2 separate regions of the Homo sapiens genome follow, and region 2 is linked to region 1. Evidence: fine-mapped expression QTL. Tissue or cell type: lung. Region 1 holds a variant in brackets; the other region holds the start of a gene. All regions are shown on one strand. Distances are from middle to middle.

What was found. PIP is the estimated chance that this variant, and not a neighbour inherited with it, causes the effect.
Region 2: RASAL2-AS1 starts here. The variant in region 1 is fine-mapped to the expression of RASAL2-AS1 in lung (TOPMed, PIP above 0.99). The same link has a PIP of 0.9 or more in subcutaneous fat.

The regions. Positions count from the first base shown.
Region 1 is chr1:178,200,729-178,204,906 of GRCh38, reverse strand. The region is part of intron 1 of RASAL2 (RAS protein activator like 2); the gene reads right to left. Among named protein-coding and RNA genes, the nearest start is that of RASAL2, 110 kb to the right of the region's middle. The variant C/T (reference allele first, on the strand shown) is at 1,963.
Region 2 is chr1:178,091,685-178,095,862 of GRCh38, reverse strand. RASAL2-AS1 (RASAL2 antisense RNA 1) reads left to right here and starts at 1,870. Exons shown (of 2, transcript NR_027982.1): 1 at 1,870-2,302; 2 at 2,451-4,178. RASAL2 (RAS protein activator like 2) reads right to left here and starts at 1,759. Exons shown (of 18, transcript NM_170692.4): 1 at 1,169-1,759. The coding sequence starts at 1,370. RefSeq lists silencers at 1,321-1,380, 1,531-1,690, 1,761-2,060, 2,111-2,160 and an enhancer at 1,782-2,283.

The sequences.
Region 1 (4,178 bases):
AAGGAATGAATTTGGAAGCCTTCACATTTTCCTCTGATTATGAAATACCATTGTATTTCATTTTCTGGAAGAAAGCACACGCTAAATCACAATTGAAATTAAGTGGCAAATGATGCACCTTTTAACTTTATAAGCATTTTGTACATAATTGAAAAAACCTGTGAAACAATTTCATACATTGCTTTGATTCTTTCTGTACAGAATATAGGATGGATTTACTCAAATCTTAAAGTCAGGGTGTTTCAGATTTCAATGTTTTGCTTTTTAATTTATGCAAAATTTCAATATTTGGCTTACGAACCATCTTTCAGTTATTTAATTCCATCATCAACATCAGCAAGTAGTTTTGTTCTGGGTATCACTTTTAAAATATAAAATACTCCAGTCTGTGTAGCTGCCTAAGAAGGGTATGGCATACTATGTATCCTTGAGGAACAGGGTCAAACTATCAAAGATACAGAGATGAATAGTGTTAGTATAAGGCTTCACTTACTTAGTGCAGTGCCTGGCTTCCTCTCATGAACCTCCTGGTGTGTATTAACCATCAATATTAACTATCACAAGTCCACCCCTTGTCAACCTGAACCCATATGCATCTCCTGAGATCATAATCTCCAAATAAACACAATAATAAGGTCATAATTATGCCTAACATAATACAACTATCCTTCGTACAACCAGAGACGCACCAATCCCCAACCCAAATGTTATTACATAAAGTTAACAACACTTAAATGCCGATACAATGAAGATATTTTCTTAATACAAGTGTATAAATGTACAAATATGTTTTTAGCAAAAGGAGAAAATACTCATGACAATTATGGTCCTCATTTCTGCAACTGGCCACATGGTTGTAGCTGGTATTGATGACCTTCTTCTACTACTACCAATTCTGTATTCCCTTTGCCTTCAGCAAGCACCTCAGCAGGTCATGGTTTTTTTTCCTGGTGGAGAGACCCAAACCTTCATTCCTGAAGAGTCTGGGCCATTTGTAGTCTTGCCTGGATTGGGCTGTTGTAGTTTCCCATTGACCTTAATCACAGAGTATGGTAATACTAAGAGATGCTCCAAGGGATCTCCTGTATTCTACACATACTCTTCCTTACCTCCATTGTGGAGCAGTAGACTGATTTCATCTTGATAGTCCAGTCAATCACCCCAGCCAACACAGTAACTTCCTTCTTAGCCTGTTAACTTAAAGGTAGGAGGAGCCCAAAGTGTCCAGGTGGCAATATTAACTTCCAGTTTAATGGAATCACTGTTGTGCCTCCTGGTGGCAGTGTTCTTCCCTCTGGAACTAAGACCTCTAGGCCAGCAGAACATAATGTTGCAGGAATAGGAAGCAAAAATTGTGCTAGTGGATCACTAGGGGTGATACTGAATGGTGCCACTTTTCCATCCCTTGATTCCTGGACCTGTGAATTCTGGCTATGCAAGAAACAGTACCATGTATTAGATGCCGATTCAGAGCATGCACAGCCTTCTGGAGAACTCTGCCCCAGCCTTGCCAAGTATTCTCACCTAGATGGCATTGTAATTGTAACTTCAAAAGGCCATTCTACCGTTCTATCAATCCAGCTGCTTCAGGATGATGAGGAACATGGTAAGACCAGTGAATTCCATAAGCATGAGCCCACTGCCACACATCTTTAGCCATAAAGTGAGTGCCTTGGTCAGAGGCAATGCTGTGTGGAATACCATGACAGTGGATAAGGCATTCCTTGAGTCCACATATGGTAGTCTTGGTAGAAGCATTATGTGCAGGATAGGCAAGCCCCTATCCAGAGTAAGTGTCTATTCCAGTGAGGACAAACCTCTGCCCTTTCCATGATAGAAGAGGTCCAATATAATCGACCTGTCACCAACTAGCTGGCTGATCACCCAGAGGAATGGTGCCATTTTGAGGGCTCAGTTTTGGTCTCTGCTGCTGGCAAATTGGGCATTCAGCAGTGGCCATGG[C/T]CAAGTCAGCCTTGGTAAGTGGAAGTCCATGTTGCTGAGCCCATGCATAACCTCCACCCCTGCCACCATGACCACTTTGTTCATGGGCCCATTGGGCAATGACACAGGTGGCTGGGGAAACAGGCTGAGTGGTGCATACAGAACGAGTCATCCCATCCACTTGATTATTAAAATCCTCCTCTGCCAAGGTCACCCTTTGGTGAGCACCCACATGGGATACAAATACCTTCACAGTTTTTGACCACTCAGAGAGGCCCATCCACATACCTCTTCCCCAGATTTCTTTGTCACCAGTTTTCCAATCATGCTTCTTCCAAGTCCCTGACCATCCGGCCAAACCATTGACTATAGCCCATGACTCAGTATATAATAACACATCTGGCCACTTCTCCTTCCATGCAAAGTGCACACCCAGGTGCACTGCTTGAAGTTCTGCCCACTGGAAAGATTTTCCTTCACCGCTATCCTCCAGGGATGTCCTAGAAAGGGGCTGTAGTGCTGCAGCTGTCCACTTTCAGGTGGTGCCTGCATATTGTGCAGAACCATCTGTGAACCAGGCCTTAGTCTTCTCTTCCTCTGTCAGCTGATCATAGGGAACTCCCCATGAGGCCATCAGTGCAGGCTGGGGGAGAGAAGGCAGGGTGGCAGGAGTGAAAACCATGGGCGTTTGAGCCACTTCCTCATGTAACTTACTTGTGCCTTCAGGACCTGCTCAAGCCCGATCATGTATATACCACTTCCATTTGACGATGGATACTGTAAGTCAAACCTGAGCTAAAACTCCATTAATTACCTGACCTCCATAAGCCACTACTTTAACTGGAGGACCACAGTGATGTTTTGGGTCCCCTGGAATCAACGTCAGCTCAGAGCCAGTGTCCAATGGTCCCGGAAATGTCTGATCATTTCCCTTTCTCCAATGCACAGTTACTCTGGTAAAAGGCCAGAGGTCCCTTTGGGGAAGCAGGGAGAAAGATTTACACATAAATTGTCGGTAGAGGGATCCTTCTTCAAGGGGACCCGGCCTCCCCTTCATTCAAGGGGTTCTGGGTCTGTAAACTAGCTCAAGTCTGGAAATTGAGGAGCCATGATTCTGTTTTTATAATTCAAATTAGTTTTCTGTCCACTTGACCTGAACGTTTTCTGCTTATATAAATTAAGTAGGAATGCCGTAGGCTTCTATCAGTTTCACTTCTAGAAACACCATGATTAATTAGCCAATGGCAGAGCTCTACACAAGTCAAACTATTCTGATTGCTGCTTTGCCTCTGCTGTCCATTATGGTAGCTATGTTTACCTTGCTTTTGACAGTTGAGTGCCACCACTTGGCCCCTGCCACACTGGAATCCAATTATTCCCACTGCATTTAAATTTTGTAGTTGAACGACTGCAGTTCCCACAGTTAGATCTGGCATACAGAGAAAAGCAATCCCTATGGAGCTCTTCCAAGATGCAGATGCTGCCCTCACAAATCCATTTCGCTAAGGGTATAGCTTCTGGACTCTTCCAGCTGGGATGAGTAGGTCTAAAGTGACTAATCCACTCCAGTATCACAATCTTCCTAAACCCTTGGATCCCTTCCTCTACATTAAACCAAGGGAGATTAGGCATTTCCAGCTTACTCACAGTGGGCCATCTTTTAATTCACAATTCACCTAACCAAGCAAATGAACTATTAGAACCTTTTTTTAACTCCCCAAGCTGCCACATAAATGCAGAATCCCTACTTAGGGGGCCCAAATTGATAAATTCAGCCTGATCCAACTCTACGTTCCATCCACCATCATCCCACACCCTTAATATCCATTCCCATGCCTGTTCTCCAGATTTCTGCTTATATAAATTAGAGAACTCAGCAGTTTTTTTCGAGTGTAGCACACCTCCTTGTGGGTCACACTCTGAACCTCACCTCTAGGAGCCTGCTGGGACTTTAGTCTAATTATAGGTCTAGAAGCTCACAGGGTGTTGGAGGTGGGTCCTGGGTGTCTTGCCAGGCACCGGCCTCAGGGGACGCCATCACTGTTGCCTTAGGCAGCATATCTCCTCAAACAAAGGTGGAAAGGATGATGGCAGCATGGGTTGGGGAGGGGATGCTGCCACTACTGGGGATGAGGAAGCTGTTTCTTCTGGTAAAAAGGGTTCATCAGAGTTTACAAGCTCAGTGTCCCCAGCTTCGTCAGGGTCCTCTCACACGTCACCATTCCAAGTTGCAGGGT
Region 2 (4,178 bases), 110 kb after region 1:
CACAAGCCAAAAATGTGACTCGATCTGCCCCAAATCCCATAGCCATTTAGTGGTAGAACTGAGACAAGAACTGAGATCTCTGGACTCCTAGTTCTATGATCTTTGCGATGGACATTAAGTCTTCAAATCAACTGAACTACACAGAAAAAAACCTAAGTCTTGGTCACTCTTGAATAGTAAGCATATACCCTGTTCAGAAAGATGAAAGAAAAAAACATAAGGTACTTGATCACTACAGGCTTAGATGCACAAGACTGCAGGATAACATCTTAACATTGTGTTTGATCCCAGGTGCTTCAAATTTGCCATCTTATACTCAGCCACGTTACTAATGTCTTCTGCAGTCACGTGAGCTAGGCGATAAACATCTTGCCGTTTCAATATTTTGGAAAGCCACAGCTCAGTCCTGAATGCCAGGCTATAAATCCTTAAGCTATGAGTTTTCAAAACCAGCATGGTTTTAGTGCTGCCACAAGGCTCACCCTAATAGAATCTCATCATTCAGTTTTAATTAAAGAGGTGGTTACCAGGAATGCAGAAAGGGAAAGTTTTAGTGTGTTCATCACTTTTAACCTGCTGAGTGGCAACCCAGTCACTTTACAACGAGATTCAGAAACAATAGTGTAATCTGAAACAATCCACACCCGTTGGAATAAGTGGTTGCTTTTAGAGAGAGTGAGGTTCAGGCAGAGGTTATAGATTAGTCTTGCTCCCACCAAATACATAGTTTGCATTTTTTTCATTCATTAGCTTATCCTCTGCTTTTTCATAATATCTTGGTTTCCAGTCTTGCCTCATTCAACAATAAAAAGAGACGAAAATCCATTCACTTGGTTTCATGGAGTTTTTCCATCATACCTTCTTGAAGATTGATTGCCTGGCTGTTCCCTTGAAGTAATCGCCTAAGAATTACGTCTTGGATAGCCCAACTCCCGCATTAAACTTACTGCAGGTGTCTGAAGAGGTCCAAAGACCATACTGAGTGACATCCCTGCCCAAGTGATAGTCTGAAGAAACTTGTCAGAAATGCACCCCCAGAACAAAAAGGGATGTGGGAAACTGACCTAGCACGGATGAGGACTGGGAATGAGCCTGTGACTTAGGGAATGAATTTCAGCCCAAGCAAAAATAGGAAACACCAGCCTCTAAGACGGCCTGTGGTCCTTACCGTACACCCGGACCCAGCTCTGTTGCTGGCACACGGACTCCAGAAGGATCCGATCCAACATGCCACCGGCGACGGCTCCACTGACTGGGACAACCGCGTCCAGGTCCTCCGGGGGCAGCGGCGAGTCGGACTCCAGCGCCGGGAACATCTCCGGCCAGGACAGCGCCTCCGCGGCTCCTCCGGACGACGGAGAGAGCTCCATGGTGCCCCGAGGCGGGAGGGGGACGAGGCGGCGGCTTCGGGGCGGGCTGGCGCGCGGCTCCGCGCCCTGCCTGCGGTAAGGGGAGGAGGAGAGCGCGCAGCGAGGGCAGGGACCCGAGCGGCAGCCGGCGCGGACACCTCTCACCTCCTTCCCCGTCGCCCACTGCCCGAGGCTCGGGCGATGCAGCCCACCTGCAGTCGGCGGGCGGGACCCAGGCCGGGAGGAGGATCCAGCGTGGCCCCGACCAAGGGTGGGTCCGGGCTCAGGTGTGTGTGGGTCCCTCCCGGGAGAGGACGCAGAAGAACCCGGGAGGGGAGGCTCGCCCTCCCACCTCCTCGGAGCCGCCTTCTTCAGCCCCGCCGGCGTCTCTCGCGGTCAGACCAGGCTCTGGCTGGGGATGGAGCGGGGCCGGGCAGGGCTGGGCTTGGGGGCGTCGCCGCCAGGGGCCGCCCCCTCTGACCGGCTCCCGCCGCCGCCGCCTCAGAAGCTCCGAGTGCCCGTTCCCTCAGCCTGAGGAGGGGTAGGGGGCGGTGGCCCCGGGTTCTAGCCCGCCTGTCCTCGGCCCCCACTTCTGGAATGAGCCTGCCCGCCCCCTGACTCTCAGGCCACAGCTCCGGCCACAGCTCTGGCTCCTGCTCCGCGGCGGATCCCACAAACCCGGCAGCCACGGCGGTGGCGGTGGCGGTGGCGGTGGCGGTGGCGGCGGCGGCGGCGGCGGCAGCGGCAGGCGGCATCCCAGGGTGATAGGCTGAAGCAATCGAGGGCCGAGAGCCCGGCCGCGTGTGCACTCGAGTAACGAAGCCGGGGAGGGACTGCGCCGCAGGCAGGAAAAGTCGGACACCGAATTATTCATCCGGCCTGTCCCGCCTACTTTCCAAGTACCCTCCCAGGGATAGCCGGGTATTGAGCGGTCCGGGTCTCTGCTGCTCAAAGTAAAGACCGTTTGAGAAGGCGGGGAGGTAAAAGGGTGCGGGAAATTTAAACAGAAAAGAAAGGAGCTTCCCTTCCTTCTCACACCTTTCCTATTTATTTGTTTCTTTCTTTCTTTATGGGCCAACGTTTCTTTCTTATTGGACAAAGAGATCGAAGAAGCTGCTTTATCTTACAGTCACCCAAGGGGGAGCGCCTTCTTCCTTCCCAGAGTGGAGTGGCAGTGGGTCCGGGATTCTGGGATATGCACAGGGTCTGCGCCCTGCGCCCTGTCCGCGCTGAAGCTGAACTTGTCATTGGTTTGCAACAGCATGGTGAAGAAGTGTGGTGTGGATGGACGGACGGGCCTCTCAGGCACATGAAATACTCAAAGCCCAGTATTAACCAAACATGTTTCTCTGTTTTGTCTTTGATCTTTGTGCAGTGTGTTGGCTTTTTTCCTTTAATGATGTCACTTGTATTTTATTTTTGGTTTATTTGTAGACTGTCTCCCTCCTTGGCCATGGCTTTACTTTTATGTCCACCCAAGGAGAGTTTCACCAGTTTAGGTTTAAGAAATTACTGACAAGTTAACAATAATAATTTCAAAATTGAACAGTAATAACTTAAACCGTGCCTTGGACATAGTAGATCTCCAACAGTTTTTCTTGAATGTGGCTACCTAATGTGGAACAAGATTTTTCATAATTACATGTTGCTATTTTTAATACCTTTTGGGAGGTTCTTTAGTCCCCCCCGCCCTTTCTCCCTACGTTGCACAAAGAGACTGGTCTACAAGGGGTCCTGTTAGTTTTCTGGTTTTGTGGGGTCCTGGAATATTGTTTGGGCTTATTGAGAGTTAACAAGGATGTATTTTGTGAGTTTCTCCAAAGTCTTATTTAGAGTAATAGTATTTCAAAGCAAGAAGTGTTTTAGAGAGAACATCATTCTGCCTCTTGTTTAACAGGTGAGGAAACTGAGGAAAAACCAGCTTACCTGGCTAATCAACCACAAGTACAGATAGTTCCACAATGACTCAATGGATATTACTTCAACTTTGTTCCCTCAAGAAACTTTTGTGATTAAGCTTGTTGATTTGTGGCTTGATGGTTTACAGGAATGGTCATTTTTAATATCTAGGACCCTGCTTGCTTGCTTGCTTGCTTGCTTACTAGACTGGCTGCATAGTCAGTCTTCCACGTGTAAACAACAGTGTGTGCTTTAGTGGATAAGAGATGTTGAGTGCTGAGATTTCAAGGCTCAGCACTGAGTAGACCTAGAGCATTTTTATTTATACTAAATTAATGCCATGGTAACATAAGTTAGACAGCAAGTGAATATGGCATCAAATGTACAAAGTTGAGTATCTCTTTACTAGTCAATGTATAAGGAATTTATTTACCCAAGCAATTATCTTAAAAACAGCATTACAAGTGGTATGCGAAACATTTCCAGAATTTATTTCCACATCTGCTCTTTCAGTGGCATCATCCATTCCTGAGCTCAAGAAAAGGCCTCTGCCAACCGCCAGTAATCCTGCTTTTTTAGTAATCCTACTATTTTTTTTTTAACTTTAAGTTCTGGGATACATGTGCAGAACATGCAGGTTTGTTACATAGGTATACATGTGCCTATGTATACCTATGTAACATGGTGGTTACAGTAAACATGGTGGTTTACTGCATCTATCAACCCGTCATCTAGGTTTTAAGCCCTGCATTCATTAGATATTTGTCCTAATGCTCTCCCTCCCCTTTCCCCCACGCCCCGACAGGCCCCAGTATGTGATATTACCCTCCCTGTGTCCATGTGTTCTCATCGTTCAACTCCCACTTATAAGTGAGAATATGCAGAGTTTGGTTTTCTGTTGTGTTACTTTGCTTAGAATGATGGCTCCCA